Linked DNA regions of Homo sapiens: regions 1 and 2 are each linked to region 3. Evidence: fine-mapped expression QTL. A gene starts in region 3. Each other region holds a variant in brackets. All regions are shown on one strand. Distances are from middle to middle. Region 1 overlaps LOC100287944 (a long non-coding RNA gene). Region 2 overlaps TCP11L2 (t-complex 11 like 2). Region 3 holds the start of TCP11L2 (t-complex 11 like 2).

Region 1 (5,106 bases), 230 kb after region 3:
AAGACTGTATTTTTCCTTCATATATGATGCTTAATTTCACTGGATACAAAATTCTTGGCTGATAATCGTTTTGTTTGAGGAGGCTGAAGATAGAGCCCAATCTTTTCTAGCTCGTAGGGTTTCTGCTGAGAAATCTGCTGTTAATCTGATAGATTTTCCTTTATAGGTTACCTGGTGCTTCTGTCTGACAGCTCTTAAGATTCTTTCCTTTGTCTTAACTTTGGATAACCTGATGACAATGTGCCTAGGTGATGATCTTTTTGTGATGAATTTCCCGGGTGTTCTTTGTGCTTCTTGTATTCGGATGTCTAGGTCTCTAACAAGGCTTTGGAAATTTTCCTTGATTACTCTCCCAAATATGTTTTCCAAGCTTTTAGAATTCTCTTCTTCCTTAGGAACATAGATTATTCTTAGGTTTGGTCATTTAACATAATCCCAGACTTCTTAGAGTCTTTGTTCATATTTTCTTATTCTTTTTTCTTTGTCTTTGTTGGATTGGGTTAATTCGAAGATGTTGTATTCAAGCTCTGAATTTCTTTCTTCTACTTGTTCAGTTCTATTGCTGAGACTTTCCAGAGCATTTTGCATTCCTATGTGTCCAATATTTCCTGAAATTTTAATTATTTTTTCTTTAAGCTATATATTTCCTTGATTATTTCTCCCTTCACTTCTTGTATCATTTTTTTGGATTTCCTTGCATTGGGCTTCACCTTTCTCTGGTGCCTCCCTGATTAGCCTAATAACTACCCTCCTGAATTCTTTTTCAGGTAAATCAGGGATTTCTTCTTGGTTTGGATCCATTGCTGGTGAACTAGTGTGATTTTTTGGGGAGTGCTAAAGAGTACTGTTGGGTCATATTACCAGAGTTGGTTTTCTGGTTCCTTCTCATTTGGGTAGGCTCTGTTTGAGGGAAGGTCTAGGGTTGAAGGCTGTTGTTCAGATTCTTTTGTCCTACAGGGTGTTCCCTTGATGTAGTACTCTCCCCCTTTTCCTGTGGATGTGGCTTCCTGTGAGCCAAACTGCAGTGATTATTGTCTCTCTTCTGGGTTTAGCCACCCAGCAATTCTAACCAATTCTGGGCTGGTACTGGGGGTTGTCTGCACAGACTTCTGTGATGACAACTATCTATGGGTCTCTCAGCTGTGGTTACCAGTGCCTGTTCTGGTGGAGGTGGCAGGGGGGTGCAATGGACTCTGTAAGGGTTCTTAGCTTTGGTGGTTTAATGCTCTGTTTTTGTGCTGCTTGGCATCCTGCTGGGAGGTGGCACTTTCCAGAGAATCAGCTGTGGTAGTATGGGGAGGAACCAGCAGAGGGTAGGGCCCTAGAACCCCCAAGATTATATGCCCTTTGTCTTCAGCTACCAGGGTGGGTAGGGAAGGACCATCAGGTGGTGGCAGGGTTAGGTGCTATGGCTGCTATGGGGGATGGGGGTGAGGTGCCCAGGTCAATGGAGTTGTGCACCTAGGAGGATTATGGCTGCCTCTGCTGAGTCATGCAGGTTATCAGGGAAGTGGGGGAAAGCCAGCAGTCACAGCCCTCACCCAGCTCCCATGCAAACTGAAGGGCCGGTCTCACTTCCACCATGCCCCTCTAACAGCCCTGAATCTGTTTCCAGGTGGTGGGCGAGCCGGGCTTGAGAACTTGCCCCAGGCTACCCACCTCCCAGCTGTGAAAGAAAGGGGCTTGGTTCTTCCCCCACCTGTGGAGTCTGCACACCGGATTCATACCCTCCCCCAAGTTCTAGCCAGGAGGCTTCTCACCCAGTTCAAATTGCTACAAAGTTAGCTGGAGATTTCCTTCTCCCTGTAGTGTTTCCCCTTGCACTCCACTCCTCTGGCTGCTGCCTTCCTGACGGATCCCTGTGGTGCCAGGCAAGAATGGCCTGCTTGGGGATCCAGCAAGCTCCCAGGGCCTTTCTGCTGCTTCCTGTACCCCTGTATTTCACTCAGCTCTCTAAATTGACTCAGCTCCAGGTACAGTTGGAAACTTCTCCTGCAAACAGACCTTCAGTTTCTCCAGTGGGGGTGTGTGTTCGGGAGAGGAGGCTCTCCCTTTCCCACTTCTGCAGTTGGGGCACTCACGGTATTTGTGGTGTCTCCCTGGTCCTGCAGGAGCAGTCCGCTTTTTTCAGAGGGTCTGTGGGTCCTCTCGGGATTGCTGGTTTGTTCTTGCAGTTGATCTGGAGCTAAAATTCATGATGCAAGCCTCAGCACGCTGCTCTGTCCGTCCGAGTCAGAGCTGCAATCTCTACTCTGTTATAAGGTATGTTCATTACCATGAAGTTATATAGTGAAGGTGAACTAGTTAAAACTGGCCAAAAGATCTGAACAGACATCTCAGCAAATAAGACATACAGGTGGCAAATAAGCATATGAAAAGATGCTTGACATCATTTGCCAATAGGAAATTAAAAATTAACAGTGAGATGCCACTACACATCTATAGAATGAAAAAAGTCCAAAAAACTGACAATACAAATTGCTGATGATGATGCAAAGCAAGAGGAGCTCTCATGCATTGCTGTGGTAATGCAAAATGGTATAGCCACTTTGAAAAACAGTTTTGCAGTTTCTTACAAAACTAAACATAGTTTTACCATATAATTCAGCAATCATGCTGCTAGGTATTTGCCTGATTTGAAAACATGCACACACAAAAATTCTACATGCGAATGTTTATAGCAGCTGTATTTGTGATTGCCAAAAAATGGAAGCAACCAAGATGTCCTTCAATAGGTGAATAGACATTCAAACTAAGATGCTTTCATGCAATGGAATATTATTCAACAATAAAAAGAAATGATGTATCAAGCCATAAAAAGACATAGATGAAACTTAATTATATATTGCTAAGTGAAAGAGTCTAGAAAAGGCAACAATTTTTGGTAAAAATGAAGTGGTAAAAACATCAGTGGTTGCTGGGGTTTGGAGACAAGTTGAAAAAGTGAAGCACGGGAGGTTTTTCCTCCATCCCAGGTGGAGAAATTTATTCCATATAATACTGTAGTGGAAAATACATACTATGCATTTGTTTAAAACCCATAGGACTTTGTAGCCCAAA[G/T]AATAAACCTTAATGGATGTAAAGTTTTAAAAAAAACAATTGGGAGGTTGAGGGATCCCAAGATGGAATGTAGAATACGACAAAAAAAACAAAAAAACAAAAAAAAAAACCTACCTGTATTACAAATGTATAATGCAGCGTCATTAAAGGAGGTAGGGAAAGGTGCTGACCTAAGTAGCTTTGGAAGTGAATCAAGTTTGTAAGGCTAAAGGCACAAGAAACTGTATATAAGCATTTATCCTAGTTCAGTCCTTCCCAACTCCTGGTCTGCAGACCGGTACTGGTCTGTGGCCTGTTAGGAACCGTGCCACACAGCAGGAGGTGAGCGGTGGGTGAACGTCACTGCCTGAGCTCCACCTCCTGTCAGATCAGTGGGAGCATTAGATTCTTGTAGGAGAGAATTTCATAGATTCTCATATTGTGAAGTGTACATGTGAGGGATCTAGGTTGCATGCTCCTTATGAGAATCTAATGATAAATGTAATGCTCTTGAATCATCCTGAAACCAGCCCCCTACTCCCATCTATGGAAAAATTGTCTTCCACACAACTGATCCCTGGTGCCAAAAAGGTTGGGGACCACTGATCTAGTTGATACAGTTTTCCCCAGGGAGTTGTGGGTTAACAATTCTGATACCGCTACACACTGTGGTTGAGCGATTAAGTGAATGATGGCATATGGTGGCAATCATATGGCATATGGTTTCTTGCTGTTGGAGTGGCAGAGGCAAGAGCAAGCCTAGAGGACCCTGAGGAGGCATGACTACTACATGTAATGTGTTACCTTGACTGGGATTCTGGAACAGAAAAAGGTCATTAGGAAAATATTAAAGAAATCTGGATAAAGAATTGACTTCAGTTAATAATAAATGTATCAATGTTGGCTCATTAATAAGTGTACCATACTGATGTTAGATATTAATAATAAGGGGGACTGGGTATTAGGTATATATGAACTTTGTATGATCTTTGTAATTGTATTGTAAATTTAAGCTGTTCTAGAATAAAAGGTTTATCTTTAAAAATTACAGGAAGTGAATAATTTAAACTGAAATTTAATCATGTATGGCAGTAAAATAATAAATGAAACAATTTTGAATGTTAAAATTAAAAAACCACAATGAAGTATCAATATAACCATTAGAATAACTAAAATGTTTTAATATGACAATTACAATTGATGGTGTTGGTGATGATATAGGGACATTGGAACTCTCATACATTGCTGATGGGAGTGTAAAAGGGAGTGTAAAAATCCATCTTTGGAAAGCTGTTTGATGGTTTCCTATAAAGTTATATATGCAATTACCATATGACCCAGCAATTTCACTTCAAGGTGTTTATCCAAAAGATATGAAAGCATATGTACACACAAAGATTTGTACCAAAATATTCATATGAGTTTTACTCGTAATAGCCCAAAACTGGTAGCCACCCAATAGATAAAAATGGCTAAACAAGTTGTGGTATATTTATAAAAAGGAATACTACTTAGAATTAAAAAATGAACAAACCTACATATATATGCAACAAACTAGATCAATATAATAAAAGCATTATACTGAGAGACCAGGCGTAAAAGAGTAAGTATTATGTGATTCAATTTTTATGAAACTTTAGGAAAGACATGTCTAATCTATAGTGATAAAAAGCAGATCAGTGGTGGTGTGAGGCTGGGAGCAGGGGCAATTGATTGAGAAGGGGCAAAAAGGAACTTTTTAGGATAATGAAAATATTTTTATTATGGTAGTGATTATACAGATGTATATCTTTATCAAGATTCATTCATCTATACAGTTAAAATGTGTGCATTTTCTTGTGTATAAATTGTTCCCTAGTGAGGTTGACTTTTAAAGAGGATTAGAGAAAAAATGACATTATTTTATAATGTGAGTTCAAAGGAGTTTTTAAACCTGTAATTCAAATAATTAGATGTAAAAGGACATTTAAGGGTATAAAGCTGTATAAAGCCATATAAAGGATATTTAAAGGTATGAAGAGAAATACTAGAACAGCTAAAAATCATTATAAAATTAAATGTTAGTGA
Region 2 (5,106 bases), 43 kb after region 3:
AATTGAAAGCATTTTTAATCTCATTCAAAGTACTGTTGCCCTAGCAACTTAAGTGACTCACTTGAACGTCTCTTCTTCGACTCTGGAAGCCAAGGACACGCCTTTGGCAGGGACTCCGTGTGGCTGCTCCTAACTTTACAAACACTCCGGTCACTTTAGCCTTTGCCTAAAAACAGACTCATCTGCAAAAGAGGCAAAAGAGGCAGAACCACTTGCTGACATAATAAGGATTTTGAAAGGGTTTCATTTTTAAACCTTCTTATGGGAAAGCGTTTGGATCATATCTGTGATGATATAGACCTGGGCCTCTGAAGGTCAGGCAACTAGTCTAAAGGGAAAGTAGTACACAGTTAACTCTAAATGTATGCCTGCAGAGGAGTTAGAATAAATTAAACAGAGAGATTCCTGGAACCTGAGAAGGGCTTGATCAGTGTTGGCCATGGTTTTCCTCTGCTAAGGGTACCCACAGTATGCTTTCTTTTGTTCTCAGTTGATGCGCTATTTATTTACTGAAGGGATCATAATCCCCAATTCCCATTACAATTCTTAACCTTTTGAAAAGATATTAGAAAGGGATTTTTCTGTCGAATACATACTAAGTAAAAATTATGGATTACCTGCTGTGTAAATTATTTGCATGCCTACGTCTACTTTTTTTTTTTTTGAGATGGAGTCTTGCTCTGTCGCCCAGTCTGGAGTGCAGTGGTGTGATCTTGGCTCACTGCAACCTCTGCCTCCTGGGTTCAAGAAGAATACTTCTGCCCCAGCCTCCCTAGTAGCTGGGACTACAGGTGCGGACCACCAAGCCCAGCTATTTTTTTTGTATTCTTAGTAGAGACGGGGTTCCACCATATTGGCCAGGCTGGTCTCAAACTCCTGACCTCGTGATCCGCCCACCTTGGCCTCCCAAAGTGCTGGGATTACAGGCCTAAGCCACTGTGCCTGGCCTGCCATCTACACTTTTAACAAGTAATTTCAGTTGCACAGGTGATACAATAATTTCTCCTTGTAGAAAAATTACAGACAAAGGCCAGGCACGGTGGCTCATGCCTGTCATCCCAGCACTTTGGGAGGCCAAAGCAGGAGGATGGCTTGAGGCCAGGAGTTTGAGACTCTCCTGGGCAACAGATGGAGACCCTGTCTATATATAAAAAAAGAAAAAAAATACAGATAAGGCTTAAGTCACCTTTGTTTGCCTTCTTCAGTCCCCATTTTCCCCTGGCTGCCACGGTTTTCAGTTCGTTATTTATCTTTATAGACTCTTTTCAGTCCATTCTCACTTAAGTTCAGTCAGCATTTACAATGTGTCTGTCACATGACAGACCAAGAATATAAAGATAAAAAAGATATAAACCTCACGCTCAGAGAGTCCACTGTCCAAGAAGGGAGAGAGACACCTTCTCAACTGGCAATCATATGTCACGATAGTCTGGTAACAGATGCTAAGGAAAGTCACAGAAAGGAGGTAACTTTTGGCACGACATTGAAGGATGCCTCTGATTCTGGGCAGAGATGAGATGAAATGAGATGAGATTGAAGGGCATTCTAGTAAAAGGAAAGAATTCTAAGACATAGACATTGGAAACAAGTTCTAGGTCAGACCTAGCTGGAATGTATGATTTTTGTGAGCATTCTTTGGTGATAAGAATTTTAGTAGTATCATAGTTGTCTATATTCAATGTGGCATATTTTCCTTAGTAAACCTTCTTATTGGTGAGGTTTCTGTTCCCAAAGCCAGAGAAAGCCCTTGGAGCAGCCTGAGCTATAGCAGGTCTTTTCTGTCCAGTATTATTAATAGTTGTCCTATACTATTGCAGCCTGATTTCCATATGCATTTCTATGCTTTTGTGTAGTCGTCTCAAAGTCAAATACATTGAGGCAGTGATGCAGGAAGGGCAGGGAAGGTGGCACAATGGTGTGCTGGTTGGGATGTCCCTTCCTCAGTGTCTCCTGATTCTTGGCCATGTGTGAAGTACCCTGTAACTTATTTAGTATTAATTAATTATGTTTGAGATGGAGTCTCCCTCTGTTGCCCAGGCTGGAGTGTGGTGGCATGATCACAGCTCACTGAAGCCTCATGAGCTCAGGCAGTCCTCTCAACTCAGCCTCCTAAGTAGCTGGGACTACAGGCACACACCATCATGCCTGGCTAATTTTTAAATTTTTTTTGTAGAGATGAAGTTTCACTATATTGCCCAGGCTGGTCTCGAACTCCTAGGCTCAATCAGTCTCCCACCTCGGCCTCCCAAAGTGCTGGGATTACAGGTGTGAGCCACTACGCCTGGCACCATGTAATTTATTGTTCAACCAGGGTACTTTTGAGAGTCTCTTTTTAAAATTATGCCAGGACAACAGGTGTAAATTTTGACTGTCCTGGGGAAACCTAGATGTGTGGTCCCCCTTGCCATGTGGTAATTTGGGCCCCCAAGTTTGCCAGATCTCTAGATTTTTCAAGAGAAAGCAGAAATATGGATTTCTATGTGAAATCTCCTGATTTTAAATGGCTTCTGTTTTTAAAAAAGACACTGCATGGGCCAGACTGGCAATGCCAGTTTACAAACTCAGCTTTAGTGTATGTAATTATAATCATGAACATTTAGGATTAACTTTTGTAGAAGATTCCCCCCAAATAGGGCTCTGCCTTTTTTTTTTTATCAGTCAGCTATTGCTGCATAACAAAATACCACAAAACTCCTGAGCTTAAAAAAAATAAGCATTTATTATTACTCACCAGTCTGTGAGGCGACCGGGTGGCTCTTTTGGTCTTGCTGAACTCACTAATGTATTTGTGGTTCAGCTGTGACTCAGGATGGAAGCTTTGCTGATCCTGGCTGGACTTTCTCAGGTGTTTGAATGCTGGTTGGCTATGGGTTGGTCTAGGATGGCCTCAGATGGAACAGCTGGGTTTCCCTCTCCTTGGTCTCTCATCCTCCAGCAAG[C/T]CCAGGCCTATTCTCATGGCGGTAGTAGGTAGACGGTGGACATGAACAAGAGTGGCCTCTTGAGGCCAAGGCATGAAACTGGTACTCTGGCATTTCCACCGCATTCTGTATTGGCCAAAGTAAGTCACAGGGCCAGCCCAGATGGAAAGGATGGGAAAAACACACTCCAGCTTTGATAGGAGGAACTGCAAAGCTACCTTGGAAAGGGGATGGGTGCAGGGAGGGGTAAAGAATTGGGAACATTATTGCAGTCAACCTACTACAATTACTTGTTCTTGTTTTTAAAAATTATGTACTTTAATAATGGACAGATAAAAGTATCTTTTTTTCCCCTTCAGATAAACGAATTAAGCTTTACATGAGAAGGCTACTTTGTCTTCCAAGCCCTCAAAAATGCATGCCTCCTATGCCAGGAGGCCTAGCTGTCATTCAGCAGGAGCTAGAAGCCCTAGGCTCTCAATATGCAAACATTGTGAATCTCAACAAACAAGTGTATGGACCATTTTATGCAAATATACTTCGAAAGCTGCTCTTCAATGAGGAAGCCATGGGGAAGGTAGATGCTTCACCTCCTACTAACTAAAGAAGAACTGACATTGGACGAGAGATTGGAAATCCAGTACTTTGGTATCCAGTCCACTTCCATTGATGGCATTAGAGATCCAGCACATTCTCAGTACTGTGGTGCAGTATTAGCCCAAATCTGTGTAATGGGTAATATTAGCATTACAGAAGACACACACATCACATAGACCCTCAGAAGACGTAAACATCACATAGACCCTATTTGTGCATCATTTTCAAGTTTAAAACAAATATTTGTAATGAACAGAAAACAATTTGTAATTAATTATATTACCTATATAATACTTGTAAATGTTTTCTTAACCATTTATATTTGGCTTATGACATTTAACCCCTAAGGAGTTGTTTTTCTCACTTGTTATTATCAAACCTAATGGTTTTTAATTTTGGTACAACTCCTTAAAGGGTTGAAGGTTGTGACAATAACTGAGGGAACTGATGTTCTGAATAAATGATGTGAAGTAAACACAATTGTATTTGAAATGTACAATTACATTTTATTAATGTGTTAATAGAAACTTTCAAAGTAAGTCCTCAAATTCCACAAATGTACCAAATCACACTTTATAATACCAATGGTCAGTATTTATTTAGAATTTTAATGTATTAAGTACATTTTCATGCTATATACAAACTTCAGATAAAACCTCCCTTGTTTGTTTAGTGAAAATAGAAGCAACTCCCTTCTCAAATTATTCTAGAAGTTTGTTTCTTCTTACAATTTAGTCTGCTCTCCAAGAAAAACAATTTTTGCACAAATCTCTTAGTGAATGTCCTTGCAGTTCTCAGGCCATTGATAAGGTTTATATAAGAGTTTAATATTTTTATGTGAGGCAGGGCTCATTTGGTTTACTTGTAAGAAGAAGAAAGGGAGTCAATGATAAAATGAGATCCCATTCTCCATGAAGTTCATATCTGAAAAAGAAACAGTTAAACTTTGGATTTCTTACCCATATAACTTAACTACCAGATGTCTTTTGTGCTGATGAAAGCTTTACCGTGTTATGACCAAGATGCCCTCCTAAGGATCATTATCATTTGCCTTTTTTTTTTTTTTTTTTTTTTTTTGAGACGCAGTCTCACTCTGTCGCCCAGGCTGGAGTGCAGTGGCGTGATCTCAGCTCACTGCAACCTCTGCCTCCTGGGTTCAAGCAATTCTCCTGCCTCAGCCTCCTGAGTAGCTGGGACTACAGGCGCCCGCCACCACGCCCAGCTAATTTTTGTATTTTTAGTAGAGACAGGGTTTCATCATGTTGGCCAGGCTTGTCTTGAACTCCTGACCTCGTGATCCACCCACCACGGACTCCTCAAGTGCTGGGATTACAGGCGTGAGCCACCATGCCCGGCCTCATTTGCCATTCTTTTTTTTTTTTTTTTTCTTTGAGATGGAGTCTCACTCTATTGCCCAGGCTGGAGTGCTGTGGCACAATCTCGGCTCACTGCAACCTCTGCCTCCCGGATTCAAGTGATTCTCCTGCCTCAGCCTTCCGAGTAGCTGGGATTACAGGCATGCACCACCATGCCCAGCTAATTTTTGTATTTTTACTAGAGACAGGGTTTCACCACATTGGTGAGGCTGGTC
Region 3 (5,106 bases):
AGGGGACAAGATCACTGGAAGTATTTAAATTATTCTCTTGTGTTCCTCATATTCTGTCCTAGATGAGTCCCGTATAGCTAAATTTGCATTACATTAAATCAGTACAATATGCAACTCCACTAGAAAAGTTATAAGGCTGAGAGGTTGCAAATCCAACTGTAATTACATTTTTAGATTTTTGTCAATGATTTATTATAATTTAAAACTCAGATTTCAGATGTGTAAAAAGAAAATGAGTATTTCTATTTCTTCATCGAACAAAAATTTTGATCTGCCCTTAGTCTTTTGCCAAGAGTGATAGACCACATTTAGTCTACCGTGTAATTTACAGGGAGAAAAAAAAACTGTATTACTGTGAGTTCTCTAAGTGGTTCAAAAAGGTAAGTTAGAAAAACTAGGTGTAATAATATGTCTTCTTCAAATAAAATGCTAATTATTTTACTTCTAAAGAGGTTGCCTTTTCAGATTTTGTTGTTTTTTTTTTTTCCTCAGAAAGCCATAAACATAACCTGAGCAGGGAAGATTTTGTGTTATGACTGTCTGAGCCCTCTGAGCAACAATGTGATACAAGGCTCATTTTTGAGGGAACTGCCTTATATTTTACAGCACTCCATTTTTTCAAAGTGTTGTTTTTGTTTTGTTTTGTTTTGAGATGGAGTCTCGCTCTGTCGCCCAGGCCGGAGTAAAGTGGCGTGATCTCGGCTCACTGCAACCTCCACCTCCCAGGTTCAAGCGATTCTCCTGCCTCAGCTTCCAGAGTAGCTGGGATTACAGGTGCGTGCCACCACGCCCAGCTAATTTTTTTGTATTTTTAGTAGAGACGGGGTTTCACCGTGTTAGCCAGGATGGTCTCGATCTCCTGACCTTGTGATCCACCTGCCTCGGCCTCCCAAAGTGCTTGGATTACAGGCATGAGCCACCGTGCCTGGCCCAAAGTGCTTTTATACACAAGTCAGGCCAAGGGCAGTTGGTCAGGTAATTCACAGAAGGGTTTTCAGATAGCAAGTTATTTAACATTAAAGTAACAGAAGATAGTATTTCCAGCATCTTTTCTTATCTCAGCTTGGTTCTCTGATGTTACAGTTGAACTTGCTTTGACAAAAGCTGCTTTCCTGGTGGCTTTGAGAGCTACATATCTGAACTTTAAAAGAAGTGTCATGCCTAGGATCAGGCAGCTGGTCACTCCAGTATAAAGGACAACTACCCTGACTCATGGTCACCTGCTCCAACTTATGTCATAGCTCAAAACAATACTTAAATCCTTACAAAGCTAACAAAGGAAGTAATGTTGCCATGTGTCATTGTCACAGAATTACCAGAAGTTTGGGGGATTTGGGTGTTCATCTTTCTATTGTGGAGTTTTTAGGGTGGTGATGGCAGTTGTGTGGTGGTTGTCATTTGGCAGGAATTGAAATTGGAGGCTTCTGTCATTCTGATTACTTATCCAACGAATGACACAAATAAGAGCATGTTTGTAGGGAAGAACTCAGGTGGGGACAGCACCTTCTATTTAATCTCTTAACCTGTATTATTAGGTTGTATATTTTAGGAGAAGAGAGGAAAGTGGCAAAAGGAGGCACAGATACAAATTTATACAGATCACCAGCTAAGTTTGGCCACAGTGGTTTGCCAAAGAATTTCAATAACTAATACTTAGAGTGCTTACTGTGCACCCTGCTAAGCACTTCACATGCTTTATTTCACTTTATCCTCAAAATAACCCAAGGAAATAGCTATCATTGTTATCCCCAGAGACCAAGATCTCATGGATAGTGAATGTCAGAGCCAGGACTGGAACCATAGAGGAGTCTGTGTTGTAACCACTGAACAACTGACTTTCTACCCTGCTTTAAAATGTTGCCTGTTGTTTGTTGTTGTTGTTTTTGAACGGTGGTGGCCAATCTGCCTCCACAATCCAGACATAATTTCGGCACTAAACAGAAATACTTTAGTCTATACAAACTTCATGTAAGTAGTTCCTGCATGAAACTATTTCCCAAGTAATACAGCACCGATTTACACCTGGCAGAAGGCATAGTTTTGATGTGAACAGTTGGGGGAAGCTTGTTTCTCTACACCCTCAAGCACGCCCACAGCAGGAGCTGAGCAGCAGGCCAGACGGCACAGAGCCCTCCTGGGACTGGTTATTTACATTAACCAAGGTGGAAACTTCTCCCGGAGATAGGTGCTGCCAAGAACCCTAGAGGAAGTAAGACGCTTTATCTTTTGCACGCACGCCAAGTCTTCAGAGGGCCTGGATGGGTGTGACTCCAAGGAGCTAATCGTCCCGTGCAGGTGCAAATCTAGACCCGTGTTTATGTGGAGGTGTAGACGCAACTGGAGATGACCCGGTTAGTGGCTGACGTGCGTGGGAAAGCCCACCAGCAGCGTTGTTGGTTGGGTTGTCTCTGTAAGTGTGGACAGTGTGTTGGTGGGCACCCAGTTCCGATTGCCCCGTCTAGACAGGGGTGTGCGGGCACTCAATGTTCCACGCGCGGCCGGGAGCTCGCAGTGTGGTCCACGCCAGTGCGCCTGGAAGCCCAGGGGATCTGTCCGGCACTCCACTGGAGGCTTGGCCCGCGGCTTCGCCCACCTCCCCAGAGCCCCGCTCAGCCCCCGCTCCCCCCGCTCAGCCCCCGCTCAGCCCCCGCTCAGCCCCCGCTCAGCCCCCGCTCAGCCCCCGCTCAGCCCCCGCTCAGCCCCCGCTCAGCCCCCGCTCCCCCACTCGGCCCCGCCCCCAGTGCCCTGGCAGGCCCCGCCCCCAACGCCGGGCGCTCCCGTCGGCTCGGCGGCCTCAGTTCCGTAAACACTTCTCACCCCGCCCCCGGCAGCCCGGACCGCACCACTCGCCGCGCGGGGGAACCGTGCCCTCTCGCATCCGAAACACCCTCCCATCCGAGCTGTTCTCGGCCTCTCTGGTTCAAACTGACGAAGACTGTTTCTCTAATAGGTTCAGTCTGTGAGCGCTCGGCTTTCGGAGACTGAAGGGCCCTGGATCCCCTTGCCCCGTCGCGCCGTCGTCCCCCCGCTATCCGGTTTTGTGATGGCCGCGCCGTGGCTGCCTCCCTAGAGTCCCTCAGGGCCCTTTAAATACCGCGTTGGGGGGGACACTGGGGCTGGGGGGGTTTGTTGGGCTGGTGAGTTTTCGAGGTGACTGTGCTGTGCTCGGTGAGGGGACGCCCAGAGAGCCCTGACCCGGGGTCACTCCGTCGCCGTTCTCCTCTTGTCTACGTGCTGGACCCGGTGCGTATCCATCACGGGGGAGGCGTTGCCGGCTCGGAGGTGACCGGCCAGGTCCAACGGAGGGGACACCGCTGCAGCCCGAAGGCTCCCCTGCCCTATCTCGGAACTCCATCCTGGGAAGGCGGGGTCAGGGGCCATCAAGCTCGGCTCCTAGTTCATGTCTTCCCACTCCGCGTCCCCTTGTTTGACCTCGAACTGCCGTCCCGCGTGGGAGCGGGGAGCGGGGCACCGAGTGGCCGCCCCGCGTGTCGGGGTGGACACGGACTTCGGGCCTCGGAGGCCGCTTCGCCGCTGTTTAAATCCTGCTGGACAGGTACCAGCGGCATCCCGCCATCAGGGGCCCAGGGCACCCCCTTCCCCCACACTCCTCGGCCGGGCTGGAGTAGGGAACTGAGCCAGGGTAGAGGCAGGGCGGGCCCGGCAGCGTGTGTTTGGGATTTGTTGCCGTGGTTTCCCCGGCACTCAGCTCTGCCTCCGCCGTCCCCTCCCCCAAGGGTTTGTTTTGACAGGAAACCTGGTGCTGCTGGAGGGGAGGGGCGGCCAGAGGACGTGGGTGAGGTCGTGCAGACTGCTGCTGCGTCCCCTTGCCGGGACCTTTGGTTAAGGGGAAGAGGTGGAGAAAAGCCGATTGGGCCTGGGCTCGAACGCTGAACCCTCAGGTGTTGCTTGTGCTTCCCAAAGCTGCTACTGTAGGTGGCACCACTGGGGGTAATAGCAATGATTTGAGGTGGCATATGGATGAACATAGTTACTTGTTTTCGTTACTATTAAGAAAATCTGTTCCATTAAGTAAGCAGTTTCACAATGATAGAGTTTCCTTTTAAAATAAATATATTTAAATGCAAAAATCTAGTCAAGATAGAGACGCGGTTACTAAATTATAGTAAAGGTAAGGAGGGAGACGTAGAAATAGTCATGAAGAGTGGCACTCAAACGACTTAAGTTTGGGAAATCTTAGATGGTTGTCCTGCTACCTTAACTGTGAAGAAACTGGACAAGTTGTCCTTGTCCCCAGTGGGTGTCTCAGCACCCATGGTCACCAGCCCAGTCAGGGACTTTGCTCTTCTTACCTGCCAACGGATAATGAGTTAATCTCAGTGGTTCCCACTTGAGGAGGCTCCCTGCCGTGGTCCTTTTCCTCTCTTCTCTAGGGATTTCATGCATCACCCTGACAGCCAGTGGAAGTTGCCTGATTTGAAGAGGCCCAGGGCCGAAGATACCCAGTCATGTGTGGAAGCAGCTTCAATGCCATTTTGTGAGAGGTTGAGGGCCCCAGAGGGGGAAGCACAGGTATTAAAACAAAACAGACCAGCAAGTGTGGGAGGAGTGCTTTCAAATGTGAAAAGTGCCAGGAATCCTTCTCCCTGATGCTGTAATGCCACGTGTAACGTGAACATCTGCTTTGTGGACAGTGACTGGCTTGTTGGCTTTTATCTAGCTCTTTGTTGGTTCTAACTTGATGAAGACCAGTATTGTCTAGATGAATGGTATGGGCCCCTATCCCTCTGCTCTATGGTTTTTGCTTTGCTGTGGATGAATAACTTTAGTGCTGCTATTTAAGACTGATTCTAAAGCAGCATTTTGCAGAAGATGGAAATTTTTCACATCATCTGCAATTTTTTTCTTTAGAGCCCAGACTTAGTCCTCTGACTCCCTTCCCTTTACTACACATATGTGAAGGCTTGTCCTTGCAGCTGACCTCGATCTAGTGTTGAAGGATGGTACACACTAGAAGTTTCTTGAAATTTCTTTTTTGCGTGAGCTAACCTTAACTGGATGGGTTCAATTCCTCAAGGCCCTGCTGGGTAATCTGAATATTTCACTCCAAAATGTTTATGACTGTAAGCAGTTAACCTTTTTGCT

What was found.
Region 1: its variant is fine-mapped to the expression of TCP11L2 in whole blood (TOPMed, PIP 0.97).
Region 2: its variant is fine-mapped to the expression of TCP11L2 in fibroblasts (GTEx, PIP 0.98).

What each region holds. Positions count from the first base shown.
Region 1 is chr12:106,534,035-106,539,140 of GRCh38, forward strand. All of the region lies in intron 1 of LOC100287944 (a long non-coding RNA gene), which reads right to left. Among named protein-coding and RNA genes, the nearest start is that of RFX4, 46 kb to the right of the region's middle. RefSeq lists an enhancer at 1,609-2,108. The variant G/T (reference allele first, on the strand shown) is at 3,061.
Region 2 is chr12:106,343,009-106,348,114 of GRCh38, forward strand. TCP11L2 (t-complex 11 like 2) reads left to right here. Exons shown (of 10, transcript NM_152772.3): 10 at 3,278-3,995. The coding sequence ends at 3,522. Among named protein-coding and RNA genes, the nearest start is that of POLR3B, 12 kb to the right of the region's middle. The variant C/T (reference allele first, on the strand shown) is at 2,940.
Region 3 is chr12:106,299,699-106,304,804 of GRCh38, forward strand. TCP11L2 (t-complex 11 like 2) reads left to right here and starts at 3,035. Exons shown (of 10, transcript NM_152772.3): 1 at 3,035-3,243. RefSeq lists a silencer at 2,673-2,792 and enhancers at 2,813-3,698, 2,873-2,952, 2,963-3,102.